Homo sapiens: one gene and its partner. The protein of the gene in region 2 interacts with the protein of the main gene of each other region in a biochemical or structural test. Each region holds a gene or a part of one and is shown on either strand. Other genes may lie near its edges. The genes, in order: RBSN and RAB24.

Evidence for each region.
Region 1: the proteins of RAB24 (region 2) and RBSN form a complex in vitro, tested with the Homo sapiens proteins (one study listed by BioGRID).

The regions. Positions count from the first base shown.
Region 1 is NC_000003.12:15,088,903-15,096,166, forward strand, and holds part of RBSN (rabenosyn-5), read right to left. Parts: 5' UTR 7,219-7,264; coding exon 7,071-7,218; exon of another isoform or gene 6,769-7,070; intron 2,592-6,768; exon of another isoform or gene 2,437-2,591; intron 1,638-2,436; coding exon 1,497-1,637; exon of another isoform or gene 1,258-1,496; coding exon of another isoform or gene 1,233-1,257; intron 1-1,232. UniProt on the Homo sapiens protein: Rab4/Rab5 effector protein acting in early endocytic membrane fusion and membrane trafficking of recycling endosomes. Required for endosome fusion either homotypically or with clathrin coated vesicles.
Region 2 is NC_000005.10:177,300,720-177,308,848, forward strand, and holds RAB24 (ras-related protein Rab-24), read right to left. Parts: upstream 3,001-8,129; 5' UTR 2,570-3,000; coding exon 2,453-2,569; intron 2,359-2,452; coding exon 2,290-2,358; intron 2,112-2,289; coding exon 2,033-2,111; intron 1,926-2,032; coding exon 1,858-1,925; intron 1,778-1,857; coding exon 1,678-1,777; exon of another isoform or gene 1,460-1,677; coding exon 1,409-1,459; intron 1,269-1,408; coding exon 1,206-1,268; intron 1,089-1,205; coding exon 1,024-1,088; 3' UTR 479-1,023; downstream 1-478. Other genes in the region: PRELID1 (PRELI domain-containing protein 1, mitochondrial isoform 1 precursor), read left to right, coding at 3,267-3,358, 3,906-4,131, 5,152-5,265, 5,379-5,457, 5,703-5,851; MXD3 (max dimerization protein 3), read right to left, coding at 6,869-6,984, 7,062-7,245.

The DNA of each region.
Region 1 (7,264 bases), on a different chromosome or scaffold from region 2:
ATTCAAAGAGACACCTTCTATAACAGCACTAAAAAGATACAGTAGATGAGCCTGGGTAAATTTCGCTTTCCTTCTTGGAGCTCCAGTTTCCTCATCCATAAATGGGAAAAAGGACCACTACTCCACAAGGCTTTTGTGAAAGGTGAACAAGATCATAAACATGAAAATTGAATAAATCACAAGGGAATGATAAATAAATAAAGGAATAATTACCCATTTCATGGACAGAAAATATTTTATTATATTAATGACTGTTATCATTAGACGGTTAAAGGATATGTAGGCAGGCGTAGTGGCTCACACCTGTAATCCTGGCACTCTGGGAGGCTGAGATGGGAGGATCACTTGAGCCCAGGAGTTCAAGACCAGCCTGGCCAACATAGGACCCTGTTTCTACAAAAAATACAAAAATTAGCCAGGTGTGATGGATGGTGTGCACCAGTAGTCTTAGCTACTGAGGAGGCTGAAGTGAGAGATCACTTGAGCCTGGAATGCAGTGAGCCATGACGGAGCCCTGGACTCCAGCCTGGGTGACACAGTGAGACTCCATCTCCAAAAAAAAAAAAAAAAAAAAACAAAAAAAAAAAACAGATATGTAAGATTAGATAGTTCAACTAAGTGTGACTGGCATGATAAATAGCTTTATTGAGATATAATTCACATACATACACCATTTAAAGCAAATTCAGTGGTTTTTAGGATTTTCTTTTCTTTTTTTTTTTTCTTGAGACAGAGTCTCACTCTGTCACCCAGGCTGGAGTGCAGTGGCACGATCTCAGCTCACTGCAAGCTCTGCTTCCTGGGTTCACGCCATTCTCCTGCCTCAGCCTCCTGAGCAGCTGGGACTACAGGCGCCCGCCACCACGCCCGGCTAATTTTTTGTATTTTTAGTAGAGACGGGGTTTCACCGTGGTCTGGATCTCCTGACCTCGTGATCTGCCCGCCTCGGCCTCCCAAAGTGCTGGGATTACAGGTGTGAGCCACCGCGCCCAGCTTAGGATTTTCAGAGTTGTACAATCATCATAATAAATGTTAGAGAATTTTTATCATCCCAAAAACATGAAAGTAGGTAGATGTTACTATAATTATTCAAAAAAGTAAGCTGCATAAACCAGTGCCTGTCACTGGGCAGGTAATGTCCTATGTGAGAGGAAAGAATCATTAATGGACTCTATGCCTGGGCTGACGTCAGAGAGATATGGATTCATACCCTACTTCTGCAGTTTACTCACTGTTTGTCCCTGGGCAGGTTCTCATGAGGTGCAGTGAAGATCTAACAAGACCATGGGTATAAGGCACTTAATGTAGTGCCTAACACAAAGTGGATGCTCAGCTGGTTCTCTTCCATTTTCTTCCCCCAGCAAGGGCATAAGGTCCATGAGAAGCTTAGACCATTATGGTTTACTGATGCCTCCTCAGCCAACTCTTAAAACTTTACCTAGAACATAGCAGATGCTCAATAACCACTTGCTGAATGAATAAATGAATTTTCTTACCAAGCTCCTGGGGTTCCCACATGTAAGGATCAACCCCTCCATAGCTGAAAGACTCATATCCTTGGGTCCCTGACTCTGCTCGATCATCCCCTTCTCGTTTCAACAACCTGTCCTTTGCTTTTTTAGCCTTCTGGACAAGACCTTGAAAAATGGAACAAATAATACAAATGAGCCATGAAGAACACCCAGTAAACAGTCAAAAGAAATCTCAAAAAACAAGAGTTGACGAAATAATTATCGTTTGTTTAAAAATGCACCAGAAATATTTAGATCTCAAGTAAAATGCAGGAGCAAGCACACAAACACTATATTACAAATACCACAGAGCAATACACTAGTTAATCAATATTAGCATTAAATTGGTTTAGGCGGCCAACATATGGGCTAAATTACTGCTCATTGCCAAATTTAAGAGCACAATTAAATAAAAGTGCTAAAATCAAATTTGATGAGGAAAACAGGGTGATGGAAGTGTTTTCTTCTTTATCTTAATTGGAGTGGTGGTGAAGTGGGTATATACATTTTTGAAAACTTTTTGAATTGGGCCAGGCGCAGTGGCTCACACCTGTAATCCCACAAGGGAGGCAAATTGCTTGAGTCCAGGAATTCAAGCCAGCCTGGGCAACATGACAAAACCCCATCTCTACTAAAAATACAAAAAACTAGCTGGGTGTTGTGGCATGCACCTGTAGTCCCAGCTACTTGGGAGGCTGAGGTGGGAGAATCACCTGAGCCCAGGAGGTCGAGGCTGCAGTGAGCTGAGATTGTGCCACTGTACTCCAGCCTGGACAACCAGAATGAGACCCTGTCTCAAAAAAAAAAAAAAAAAAAAAAAAAAATTAAAACTATACCTCAGTTAAAATAATGTTTTTTAAAAAACAAGTTCTATAGTACTAATTCATTTACCCCAGAAACTCATGAGTAAATTCTTCTCATTTACCTCCAGGATGGGATTCAGCTAAACCTCCATCCGTGGACTGGTGTTCCCCATAGGCTTAACTGGACACAGAGTTCTTGCTTCCCCACTACTGCCCACGCACTTATTGAATGCATGTGAGAATACTTGCAAAAAGCTTCAAGAAACAGATATAACATCTACAACATAACACAAACAGAACCAGATTGGGTAAGAAGAGAAAATGAACATTTCCTGTATTTAGCCATCGTATGTACCAGGTACAACGCAAAGTGCTTGCAAATACATTATGCCAGTTCATGCTTACAATGTTATAAGGCAGGTGATAGCCCTACTTACAAATGAGGAAACGACATCAAAGACAGGGAAGAACTTGCTTCACCCAAGATCACAGAGCTTACAGGTAACAGCAGGGCTGGAAGTAGACACCTCATGTGCCTGAAATGAGAGCTCCAGCTCTCCCCCGCTAGTCCTGATTCACAAACTATGCCTCTGCAGAACATGGGTTCTGCCACCTGTGCTGGTGCAGAGAACCACCTGTTAAACTGAACAATCAGCTGGTGTGGGGCGGGAAGAATTCTCAGTTCTAAGACGCTCTCTCATGAATGTTCTTTAATCTTGGATGACTGCTATCCCTTTCTTCCACCAGAATCTAGTAGAAAATATCAGACTGAATATAAAATGGTATCATTACTTTTACTTTTTAATTATTTATTTTTTAGAGACAGGGTCTTGCTCTGTCACCCAGGCTGGAGTGCAGTGGCTGATCATAGCTCACTGCAGCCTTGATCTCTTGGGCTCAAGCGATCCTCTCGCCTCAGTCTCTCAAGTAGCTGGGACTATAGGTGTGCGCCACCATGACTAGGTAAATTATTTTATAAAACATTTTTTTGTAGAGATGTTGCCCAGGTTCGCAGGCTGAGGGTGAGATTGATAAGAATACACTTGTCTTTTTTTTTTTTTAAGACGGTCAAGCCAATAAGCAAACTTCCTGATTATTGGTCACTGTGGGACAGCTTTGTCCAAACTGGAAAAATACTAAAACAAAAGGACATCCTTTAAAATGCACTAAAGTGGGTTTTTTTTGTTTGTTTGTTTGTTTTTTTTTGAGACAGAGTTTCACTCTTGTTGCCCAAGCTGGAATGCAATGGCAGCAATCTCAGCTCACTGCAACCTCTGCCTTCCAGGGGTTCAAGGGATGCTCCTGCCTCAGCCTCCCGAGTAGCTGAAATTACAGGCACGTGCCAACACACCCAGCTAATTTTTGTATTTTTTTTAGTAGAGATGGGGTTTCACCACATTGGCCAGGCTGGTCTTAAACTCCTGGCCTCAGATGATCTGCCCACCTCGGCCTCCCAAAGTGCTGGGATTGCAGGCATGAGCCACTGTCCCTGGCCTAAAGCAGTCTTTTCTAGTAACAGGGGAGAGAAAACTGCCTGATGTGAACAAAGGGTCTAGCAAACAGGAATGTGAGTTAGCAAGTAACAATTCATTTTTGCAAACAAGACTAAAGTATCAGGTTAAACAGGCAATCTATACCATTTAACCACTTTTAGGAGATAGAAAAACTGCCTGGCAATGTTCCCAGAAAGGACATAGCCCTTCCAGAGAAGGCCAATTAAAAATAATCCCATATATTTTAAAAAACACTAACAAAGCAAGAAGCCACAGTCAATTTTCAGCTATCTTTTCTTCTACTTACTGAAAATGGGCTAGACTGGAGCTGAACCAGGACTGGGCCCCGAACCCACTAACTTTTTACTAATGACTAATCTATCTTTTCTTTTTTGAACTGCCCCCAAAACCTAATACTAAGGTTCACTCTTTTGGCTTTAACTTTTCACTTGCCCAAAACTAACCATGTCATAACATTTCTAAGAATCAAAAGACCAAATGGAGACGTAATCTGCTTTCTAAAGGGCTTTTCAAAAAACCTTTCATGTCAATCCTTAAAACTTTACTTTCCTGATTCTGAAATGCAGAAAACTGCAACATAATCAAGAATTCCTTTCTAACTAAAGACATGATCATTAATAGTACTAGAGGTAGAGATGTCGGGGGTAAGGCAGGGTGGGAAATAAAGGGAAAAACCAAGAGGATCTTTTCTTTCTTTTTTTTGAGACAGTTTCACTCTGTTGCTCAGGCTAGAATGTAACAGCCTTGATCTCCTGAGCTGAAGCGATCCTCCCACCTCAGCCTCCTGGGTAATTGGGACTACGAGTGCGTGCCACTATGACTGGCTAATTTTTTTAAATGATTTTTTTGTAGAAATGGTCTCGCTATGTTGCCCAGTCTGGTCTCCTGGGCTCAAGCAATCCTCCTGCCTTGGCCTCCCAAAGTACTAGAATTACAGGCATGAGCCACCGCACCCGGCTGAAGTAACTTTATTTTGTTTTTTTGTTTTTGAGTCAGAGTTTCACTCTGCTGCCCAGGCTGGAGTGCAGTGGCATAATCATGGCTCACTGCAGCTTCAACCTTCCGGGCTCAAGGGATCCTTCTGCCTCAGCCTTCCAAGTGGCTAGGACTACAAATGCATGTCATCATGCCCAGCTAATTAAAAAAAATTTTTTTTTATTTTTGGACAGGATCTATGTTGCCCAGGCTGGTATCAAACTCCTAAGCTGAAGCGATCCTCCCGCCATGGCCTCCCAAAGTGCTGGGATTACAGATGTGAGCCACTGTGCCCAGCCAAGGATCCTTTCAAGTTTCTTTCACAAGGCACAAAATTTCTATTCTATTTAGTATTCCTTAAATAGATTCCCATATCTGTATTCTCTAAATAACCTTAAACATTTTTCCTCTTAAAAAAGGGTCACTGTAGGAATCCGGGAACATTCTCTAACCTCTCTACCCACTGGTATCACCAGGTTGAGCAATGGCATTGTATAGGACTTAGTTCAGCTGACACCAAGACTGGAAGCTAGTTGAAAATGATGGAAGCTCTTCGGTTGTCCAAAGGAAACTTACATAATCAGGTTTTTTAGTTTTGTTTTTGCTTCATTTCCCCCAGGAAGCTGCAATGCATGTTGTGATTGGAACACGGGGCCTCTCACCCTCAGTGATGTCACGTGCAAAGGGCAGCACTGGATTTACAGATGACAGAAGACCTACGTTCCAGGCCTAGCTCTGCCAATTCCTGTGTGACCGTGGATAAGTAACTCAACATCTCTTGAGCCTCACTTCACTTACTATCTGTAAAATGAGACCAATCACCTTCTTGCAGAGTTGTTAGGAGAGTCAGATGAAACAATAATGTCTGTGAAAGAAACTCTAAAAACTATAAAGCACAGCATTTTTTTCCCTCCTAATAGTTTTGGCTCTGTTCTATAGCCTCTACAGCCAGAAGCCACCTCATCCACCAAAGCCCTCAGGATTTCAGAAATGTTTGCCTTTGTTGTTTTTGGATAGAAGTTATAACTGTTTATGCTTTTAGAAACTCTTTTTTACTGAACAGAAAAGTGAGATAGAGTGAGACTCTAGGGACAAATATCTGATTACAAAGTGCATATGATTCACCTGTCTGAAAGCTGAAGTCCACTTAGAAATACATGATCATTCCTTTCTTTCTCTCCCAATAAAGACTTTGAATACAACATCCAGAACTCTTTAATCTCAAGGCCTTCAGAAATGCTGCCAGCTGTGAGAAGCAAGTTAGCTGAATAACTACAAAATAAGTTCCAGAGGAGCAGCATCTTTGGCGTGTGTGTGTTTGTGTGTGTGTGTGTCTCTCTCTCTGTTGCCCAGGTGCGAGTGCAGTGGCATGATCATCGCTCACTACAGCCTTGACCTCCCTGGGCTCAAGTGATCCTCCTACCTCAGTCTCCTGAGTAGCTGGGACTACAGGCGTGCACCATCACGCCCGGCTAGTTGTTTTTTTTTTTAATTTTTTTTGTGAGACGGGGTTTCGCCATGTTGCCCAGGCTGGTCTTGAACTCCTGAGCTCAAGTGATCTGCCCACTCTGGCCTCCCAAAGTGCTGCGAATAGAGGCGTGAGCCACTGTGCCCGCCCAGAGGAGCAGCATCTTATCTGGAGGTTAGAATTTGATGTCCAGGAAATACAATAAACATATGTATAGTGAAAAGTACCTTTGAAAAATTCTTTCCACAACTCTCTCAAACCTGAGCTCTTGGAAGCTCAAAAACCAAGGTTTTTAGGTTGTTTTGTTCTTCGACTATGACCTTCCTTTTTCTGGGCTATAGAGGGCAAGATACCAATTGGGGAAGGAAGGATGGTGGGAAGTCTTAAATTTGTGACAGGTAAAATGGGTGCATAATGTGCCTCCATCATCATAGCAAAGGAAAGAAATTCCTCTCCAAACCCTGTTAGGCTGGTGGTTAAAGAACAGTCAAGCCAGATCACAGCAATTACATTTACTAGACTCAAAGTCAGATTGTTTCTCTGAGTGGCTTCAGACAAGTTATCTAATCTCTCTGTGTCTGGTTCGAAATGTGGCTTACAGCCACACAGTTATTGTGAGGATTAAATGAAATTAATAAACAGGGAAACTCTGAAAACGCCTGGCACATGACAAACACTAGTCATCTGTTTGCTACTACTATTATCATATTCCTGTGGCAACACCAAAGCTGATGAGAACTATCCCGTGAGTTAAAGCTCTCAACGACAGCAGGGGATAGGCAAGGTCCTCGCCTCTTACTTTTAATTTGCCCTTTGACATCACGGTCTTCCCCTGAGTGTTCTTCCTCGTAATGTGAGTGAAGCTGATAGAAAGACTGCAGATCCTTCAGGCACAGAGGGCAGAGGAAGCCCTCCCTCACTTCCCCTGGGTCGTCCAGAGAAGCCATGGCAGTGCCGCTCTCAACCCTAGGAAGGCAGGAATCTCATGCCAAG
Region 2 (8,129 bases):
AAGGGCTGCAATAAATTTCCTTCTGGTTGAGCAGCAAGTGTCAGCCCTGTTTACAGTTAACACCTGATTCCTCAGAAATATCTGGATCTTCTTTGGGGAAAACTTGGGAGTTTGCTTCCCTTTGTGACCTAGTCCTGAACTTCCTGCCCTTTCAGCAAAAAGTGCTTGGGAAGATTGGGAAAAACATTTAGTACTAGAGTTACTCTTCACTTTCTTCACAATCCTTGGGCTGCATAGTAGTCACCTTATTTTACAGATGAGAAACTCAAGATGAGGATTTAAGTCCCTTTTCTAAATTAGCAGCTGAATTGGAACCAAATCTGGATCCATTAGACCTTTCTGGCTTACAGAACTTAGGACTTTCCTACCATTAAACCACATTGTAGGATGTCACTGGGAAGCTCAGGACCTGAGTCACAGGTCTGACATAGGGGCCCAAACATGACAGATGCAGTAGAGCTAGTCAGACCAACCTGTCTCAGGTAGGAATGCTTGACCCTTTTATTTCGAAGCAACTCATGCACTCTTTTCAGCACTCAGAAGGAACTGTGAGCTTTTATACTACTACAGCCCCAGTATCTCAGCGGTAACCATGGGGAAAAAAGTCTTGTTTTCCAAAGGAAAATGAGAGTTGGGAGGAGCCTTAATATAAGCAGTGAGGCCAGCCGGGTGGCCCCAGGAAGAACTAGGTGTCTTGACACCTAATCCACACAGCAGGGAAAGGGGCTGGGTGTGATGCACAGTGCACTGATTTTATTTACAGATCAAAAGCCACTTAAATAATCTGCAGACACAAGTGCTGTCCAGGGCAGAAGCCTGGGGTCCAAATCAGCCTTATCCCTCCTCATGCCCACAGTCAGCCCAATGCTGTCTCCGTTCCATGGGCCAGCACAGGCAGGCGCCACTCTGCTGACATGAGGACCTGGGGTAGCTCAGACATTTGACTACCCAAGCCCAGAAAGGAGCTGGGTCCAGCCCTTACGGGGAATTCCTTTAATTCCCCCAGGCCAGGTGAGTGCTGACTCAGTGATGACAACAGCTGTAGAAGTAGGGGTTTGGCTTCTGGCCCAGATCCACGCCCTTGTCCTCTGTCAAAAAGAGAGGTGGCAGCTCAGCACCATTCTGTTGGGATCAGGTAACTCAGGAAAGGGGCTAGATGCTGTGGGCCTAGAGTAAGTCTCCATAAAGGCTGGGGAAGCACACACCTGTCATCACCTGGAAGGCAGCCACACTGACGTAATCCTCTGCCACTTTCTGGAAGAGCTCGTCTGGCAGGAAAAATGATGATCAGCGAGGGCCCAATGCCAGTAGCCCTGGGATCTCCCAGTGACCCAGCCCTCTGTGCCCTATTCAGCTTCCTCTGGTGCCCCTGCATGTTCCTGCTGTGAGGCTCCAGCACAGCACTCACCCACACTCTGGCCTGTCTTGCTGGATGTTTCAAAGAGCTGAGCTTTGATATCTGTAAAGAGAAGTGACTAAAGCCTCATACCTGAGAATTAGATAAACAGACAAAAGGGAGGGCTAGCAGTTCAGGGAGTCTCCTGGACCCCACAGTTCAAGGAGGCCAGGAAGACCTCCTAGAGCACCTTGCCCTGGCAGCCAAGGCAGTCCCTATTTTCTTTGATCCACCCAGACAGCCACACACCCCCACCCCCCAAAGGGCTGAGGAGCAGCTACTGTCTGCATAGTCCTGGACGTCGTGGAAGTCCACACGTCGACGCCTCCGGTCTTCTTCCAGCAGGTCACTCTTGGTGCCACATAAGTAGATTTGGCAGCCCTGAGGCAGAAGACAAGGGTCACCTCCACAGGCCAACAAAACCCCAGCCCCTAGTGTTCTAGTGAGGTCTGTTCACCTACCTCCTCTAGGCTGCGCAGTTCCTTCACCCAGAACTTTGCTCGCTCAAAGCTGCTGCTGTCTGTGAGGTCTTGGTGTGCGGCATGCAGGAGACAACCAAGTGGTCAAGGGCTGTTCTCTGGCTAGCCTGGCACCCATCTTTTCTTGTGAGACAGCCCAAACCCCCCCCCCCCTTACCATAGCAGACGATGGCAGCCTTGGCACCCCGATAGTAGATTCTACTCATGGCCTCATAGCGCTCAGAGCCTGCTGTGTCCTAAAGAGTAAGGCCTGAGTCAAACTTAAGGCCACGTTCTCCAGACCCCGCTATTTTCCAGATAAGGAAACGGGTCTATGAGAAATGGGTCTGTGAGGCCACAAATCAACCAGTAATAGGCAGGACCTACACCTCCTCAGGAATGAGTCTCCCAAGAATAGATGGCCGGGGGACTTACCCAAATACCTAATGTCACAGTCCGGTCTCCGACCGACATCACCTTGGCCACGAAGGCGGCCCCGATGGTCTGCAACGAGAGGGAAGAGATCGGGGCCATAGGTGCAGATTACCGGCCCCCCACTCCCCCGCCCACCGTGCCTGGCCCCTCCGGATGCACTCACGTTCTGATAAGGCCCCACCAGAAAGCGGTCGTGCACGTAGCGCTCCACCAGGCTAGTCTTGCCCACGTACTCCTTGCCCAGCATCACCACCTTGACGTCCACGCGCTGCCCGCTCATGCTCCCGGGGCCGCTTCAGCCACGTCAGGGTCCTGAGCGGGGACGGGAGGCAAACCCCGATCTCCGCTCGGCCCAGGCAGCGCCCAAGCCTCAGACCCCGACCCCAAACGGCGCCAACCTACGACTCCAGACAGCGCGTCGGGCTCGAGCTCTGGCCGTGGCCTTGCACTTCGGCAGCGCCCCGTGTGCCCCCGCTGTTCGGCCCCGGGCGCCGATTATCCTTCGAAGACCCCAAGCCTCGGGGCGGCCTGGGAGCGCGCGGGACAGCGTCCTCAACAGCGCAGCACGCCGCCGTGCAGCTCGCTACTCCGTCATTCGCTCGCCTGCCCGGCTTAAGCTCCGTTCTGGCTGGGAATCCCAACCGAACCTGGGGTCTCCCGCAACCCGGCTCCTACCCGCAGCGCCGCGACTCCCGCGGGAGGGGGCTAGAGGGCGAGGGGGCGGGGCCGCAAGGTCACGTGGCGCGGGCGCCGGAAGCGGTGGCTACTGTGTGGCTGCGCCGGAAGTGGCGCGCGGCCGGACAACTCATGGCGGCGGCGGCGGCGGCGGCAGCTGCTTGGGCGCGGTGCGGTGGTGACTGAGCTACGAGCCTGGCGGCGGGTGTGCGCCGAGCCCCGGCCCGGCCCGGCCCTCGCGTGCCTCCCAGGCTCCGCACCCCTGATGCTGCGCGGGTGCTGAGCCCGCTTCGGCCGGGACGATGGTGAAGTATTTCCTGGGCCAGAGCGTGCTCCGGAGTTCCTGGGACCAAGTGTTCGCCGCCTTCTGGCAGCGGTACCCGAATCCCTATAGGTACGTGGTATTTGGAAGAGCAAAACCGCGCCATCTCGCTATCTGGAGATCGAATTATGGGTAACCCCCAAGTACTGGGACCAGGAAGGACTCGATATCGAATCCTAGGTAGACCTTATCGGGGAAGCGGCCAGGCCAGGCCTGCAAGGTCCTGAAGGGAGGTTGGGCCTGGGTGGTGGTTTACTTGAGACCTTAGTGTAAGATTCTTTTCTCAGTGTGGTGAGACAAGAAGAGGCGGCAGTATGGGAGTTGGGAGGGATCTTGGAGTTGGAAATCCTATTTCTCTGCCCGTGGCGCTTTCCTGGGGTGCAATAAATCATGAGGTCCATTCCTGCTAGAAGGCAGGAATCCAGGTCAGTCAGATGGCGGGAGTGGGAATTTGCCCTGGGATGGGCCCTTAACTCTGGTTTGAACCATAGCACATACCACCCTGCAAGGTTACGGGAAGGCGTGGCCTCTCTAGGCCCGGAGCCTCCAAATGGGAATCCCCTCGGGCAGTCTCTTAGGGGCAAGCTTCTGAGGGTCACCTTCACCCTGACACCTGCAGCAAACATGTCTTGACGGAAGACATAGTACACCGGGAGGTGACCCCTGACCAGAAACTGCTGTCCCGGCGACTCCTGACCAAGACCAACAGGATGCCACGCTGGGCCGAGCGACTATTTCCTGCCAATGTTGCTCACTCGGTGTACGTCCTGGAGGACTCTATTGTGGACCCACAGAATCAGACCATGACTACCTTCACCTGGAACATCAACCACGCCCGGCTGATGGTGAGACACCTCCTGTTGTGATTCTGCACCTCCCCCTCTCCCCTCCCCCCGAGATAGAGAGCTCCTCAGATACATGTGGCTAGAGAGCCATAAGGCAGCTTTTGTGGCCGGAGGCAGGTCTGGGTTACTGAGGGTTGACAGCTGTAGAGTATGACCTCAGGTTTTCTTCTTTTCAGCTGGCCATCCTCTCTGGACCTGTCCTTTGACTCATTCATACAGTGGGGGAGGGGTACCTATCTTACGGAGTTGTCCTAAGTTCTAAATGCAAAGCGCTCCCATCTGGCATCTATGGCACAGATATATGTTGGACTCACAGGAGTGATGCTGAGTGGCGGAGGCAGTGCTTTTCTTTTTTTTTTTTCTGTTTTTTGTTTTTTTCTGGTGACAAGAGTCTCACCCAGGTTGGAGTGTAGTGACATGATCTCACCTCACTGCCACTGCCACCTCCTGGGTTTAAGCAATTCTCGTGCCTCAGCCTTCTGAAGAGGTGGATTTCTAAGCACACACCACCACGCCTGGCTAATTTTTGTATTTTTAGTACAGACAAGGTTTTACCATGTTGGCCAGGCTGGTCTCGAACTCCTAACCTCAAGTGATCCGCCCGCCTCGGCCTCCCAAAGTGCTAAGATTACAGGCGTGAGCCACCGCGCCGGGCAAATGTTTTTATTTGGACTGTCAGGAAGCTCCAGAGCTGCAGCTGGTGGAAGGCGGCTAAAACACTGCATGCGTCTAGATGCACAAAACAAAATCCAGGAGCAGGATGGGCTGGAAGGCCCTTTGTTGATCTCAAGAGAGAGACCTTTTGCCTTCTAGTTTAAGAGTCAGAAGAGAGGTTTTCGAGAGCAAAACGACCTTATTTATGGCTTCTTGTTCTGTCAGTGCCACTTGGAGGTGCAGTCAGGGGAAGGAATGGATTTTCATTGTATTGCTTCGCCTCATGAAAAGTGACAGGGAGTCAGATTTATGTGCAAGTTGGCAAAATGAAAGACTGTTCCACGATTGTGGTTGGCCTCTGCATAGGTGGTGGAGGAACGATGTGTTTACTGTGTGAACTCTGACAACAGTGGCTGGACTGAAATCCGCCGGGAAGCCTGGGTCTCCTCTAGCTTATTTGGTGTCTCCAGAGCTGTCCAGGTGAGCAGTGTTGTTGGGGCTGCTGGGGCTCTGGGACCCAGTGCTTTCGGTGTTGGGGCTGGGCTGGGGTCAGTGGGCAACTCAGTATCCTTCCCATTCTCATCTCATGCCAGGAATTTGGTCTTGCCCGATTCAAAAGCAACGTGACCAAGACTATGAAGGGTTTTGAATATATCTTGGCTAAGCTGCAAGGTGAGTTTCTGGGTATGTGGATATTCCTCATAGGGAGAGGCTCATTCAGCCTAGCGGGCGTGGAGTCTGGGTTAGTCATTGCCCTGCTCTGAGCTGGGACTCCTTGTCTGTACTGGGGGTGGGAGGAGGGTGAATACCACCTTTTTAGTGGAGCCTGGCCCAGAGGAGATTGGTGTCATGGGGGAGGGAAATTAGGTTGGTCTTTCAGGCATCTTCTAAAGGCAGCCACCTGCCGTTCGCGACAGGCGAGGCCCCTTCCAAAACACTTGTTGAGACAGCCAAGGAAGCCAAGGAGAAGGCAAAGGAGACGGCACTGGCAGCTACAGAGAAGGCCAAGGACCTCGCCAGCAAGGCGGCCACCAAGAAGCAGCAGCAGCAGCAACAGTTTGTGTAGCCAGTCTACCACCACCACAGCACCCCAGACAGCTAGGCTTAGCCTCTCTGCCCTCCCTTCATTGTACTTTATCATTAAAAATCAACTTCCAGCCCTGTCTGCTGTCTACGTGGTGGGTTGTGGGGATGCAGTTTGGCATCTGCAGTACACCAAGCACATGATTCATGTCTGAGCCAGGTCTGCTTATTCTCCCATTGGGCAGCTGAGGACCGAGGCACAGAGGTGCGGTGACTTGCCCGGGGCTCCAGGTAGCCTGCAGGTTAACTGGCGGTAAGTGCTAGACTGTAAGCCCGACAAGGGCAGGGCTTTTGGTTTTGTTCTCTGATGTGTCTCAGTATCTAGCACATAATAGACACTCAATAAATACTTGTTGAATTCAGTTGGCCCCAGCTCTGGAGTCGGAAGGCTCTGGTTTGAATCTTGGCTTCACTGTTTTTGGACCTCAGGCGAGTCACGTCACTCAGCCTCATTTCTACCATCCGTGAAGTGGAGACAGAACAGCCTCAAGTTGTGAGAATTAAGTGCACTGCCTGGCACGGCCAACAGTGTCAGTGATGGGAACTGATATTATTTCCTCTTCCAGTGGGTCTGTGGTTGGGAGTTCCCCCGTTTTCATTAGGCAAGACTATGGACGGGAAGTTATGAAAGAGGCTTTTAATGAAAATACTGTACAGTTTATGTGAGGCAAAGGCAGGGGGCCTTGTCCAGGAAGGGAAGAGGCCCAAGAGGCTTCCTGTCCCCTTGGGGGCAGCAGAGCCAAATGCTTGGGCTCGGGCCCAAGCTGCCTGCCCTGCAGGGGTCCAGGGAGGTCCTGATGAGTCCTGCCCCTTCCCTTCCAGAGGGCCTGCCTGGCAGCCAGCAGCAGGGTGTTTGGGGAGCACCTGTTCCCACACAAGGGTCCTTTTAGTCCATTCCAACAGGTGACTCCGAGCAGCCCTGAAGGCTTGGGGAGGGCTCCTGCCTGGCAAGTGGGCCTGGCACGAGTAGAGGGCAGAGGCCCGCCCTGGGTGAGGAACATCATAGCCAGGCGCCGCCGCCGTGCGAGTAGCTGTGCTCCTGGCCGGCGACGAAGCCCCGCAGCAGCTCGGCCTCACCCCCAAACACCAGGCTCTCCACATCCACCTCCAGCTCCTCTGCGCGGGGAGGGGTCCGGTCAGAAGACCTGGCTCGCCCCGAGGGCCACACAACCCCTCAGCCTCGGGGCACTCACCTTGGTCTGAGTCTGAGCGCTCAGAGGAGAGGCCTGAGGAGTCCAGACTGTCCGCCCGCAGCCGCTCCCGCTCGGCCGCCCCTGCCAGCCCCCGGAGCTGCTCCAGCTGCCGCTGCAGGCTCTGCTGCTTGCTGCGCAGCCTCTCCTTGAGCTGTCGGGCCCGCTGCTCCTGATCCTCCAGCTTCTGCGGATCCCAAAGGAGCAAGGGGCTGGGGTCAGCGGCGTGGGGGCTTGGGCTGCACCCCAGCACCACTCAGTACCGGGCCACGGCCACAGGGCCAATGCCCACTCCGGGCAGGTGGCGACTAAATCCAGGCCCCAGAGGGTTGCACCCACATCCTCCAGAAAGCCAGCCCCTTTCCGGCCATGCACACGTCCTGTCAGGGTGCTGCCTAGATTGGGGGTGGGGGGGCACCACAATCTCAAAGGCATTTGGGGCCTAGTCAAGGATAAAGGACTGGAGTGCTGTGGCGTCCAGGGGTGGGAACTGGGAGCAGGGTGCACTGCTGCGTGTACACTCTGGCTCAGGAGCCAGGCATGTGCTGTCATGGGAAACAGGCCCGGTGTTACCAGGTCTCCCCGTTTCTTTTGTTTTTTGTTTTTTTTTTTTGAAACAGAGTCTCGCTCTGTCGCCCAGGCTGGAGTGCAGTGGCACAATCTCGGCTCACCACAACCTCCACCTCTTAAGTTCAAGCAATTCCCTAGTCTCGGCCTCACAAGTAGCTGGGACTACAGGGGCCCGCCACCATGCCCAGCTAATTTTTGTATTTTTAGTGGAGACGGGGTTTCACCATATTGGTCAGGCTGGTCTCAAACTCCTGACCTCAGGTAATCCGCCTGCCTCAGCCTCCTAAAGTGCTGAGATTATAGGTGTGAGCCACCGCGCCCGGCCCCCCATTTCTTTACGAGAAGCTAGCTGGAAAGTCAGATTTTTCATGTCAAATGTCTTTTGAGGGATTGACAGCTAATTTAAATTTTTAGAAAACTAGAGAACAAACAAAGGCTACCAGTCTGTAGCTCCTGGTCACGATCCCTACAAGAGCGAGAGCGTGAAGGCGTTAGCACCCT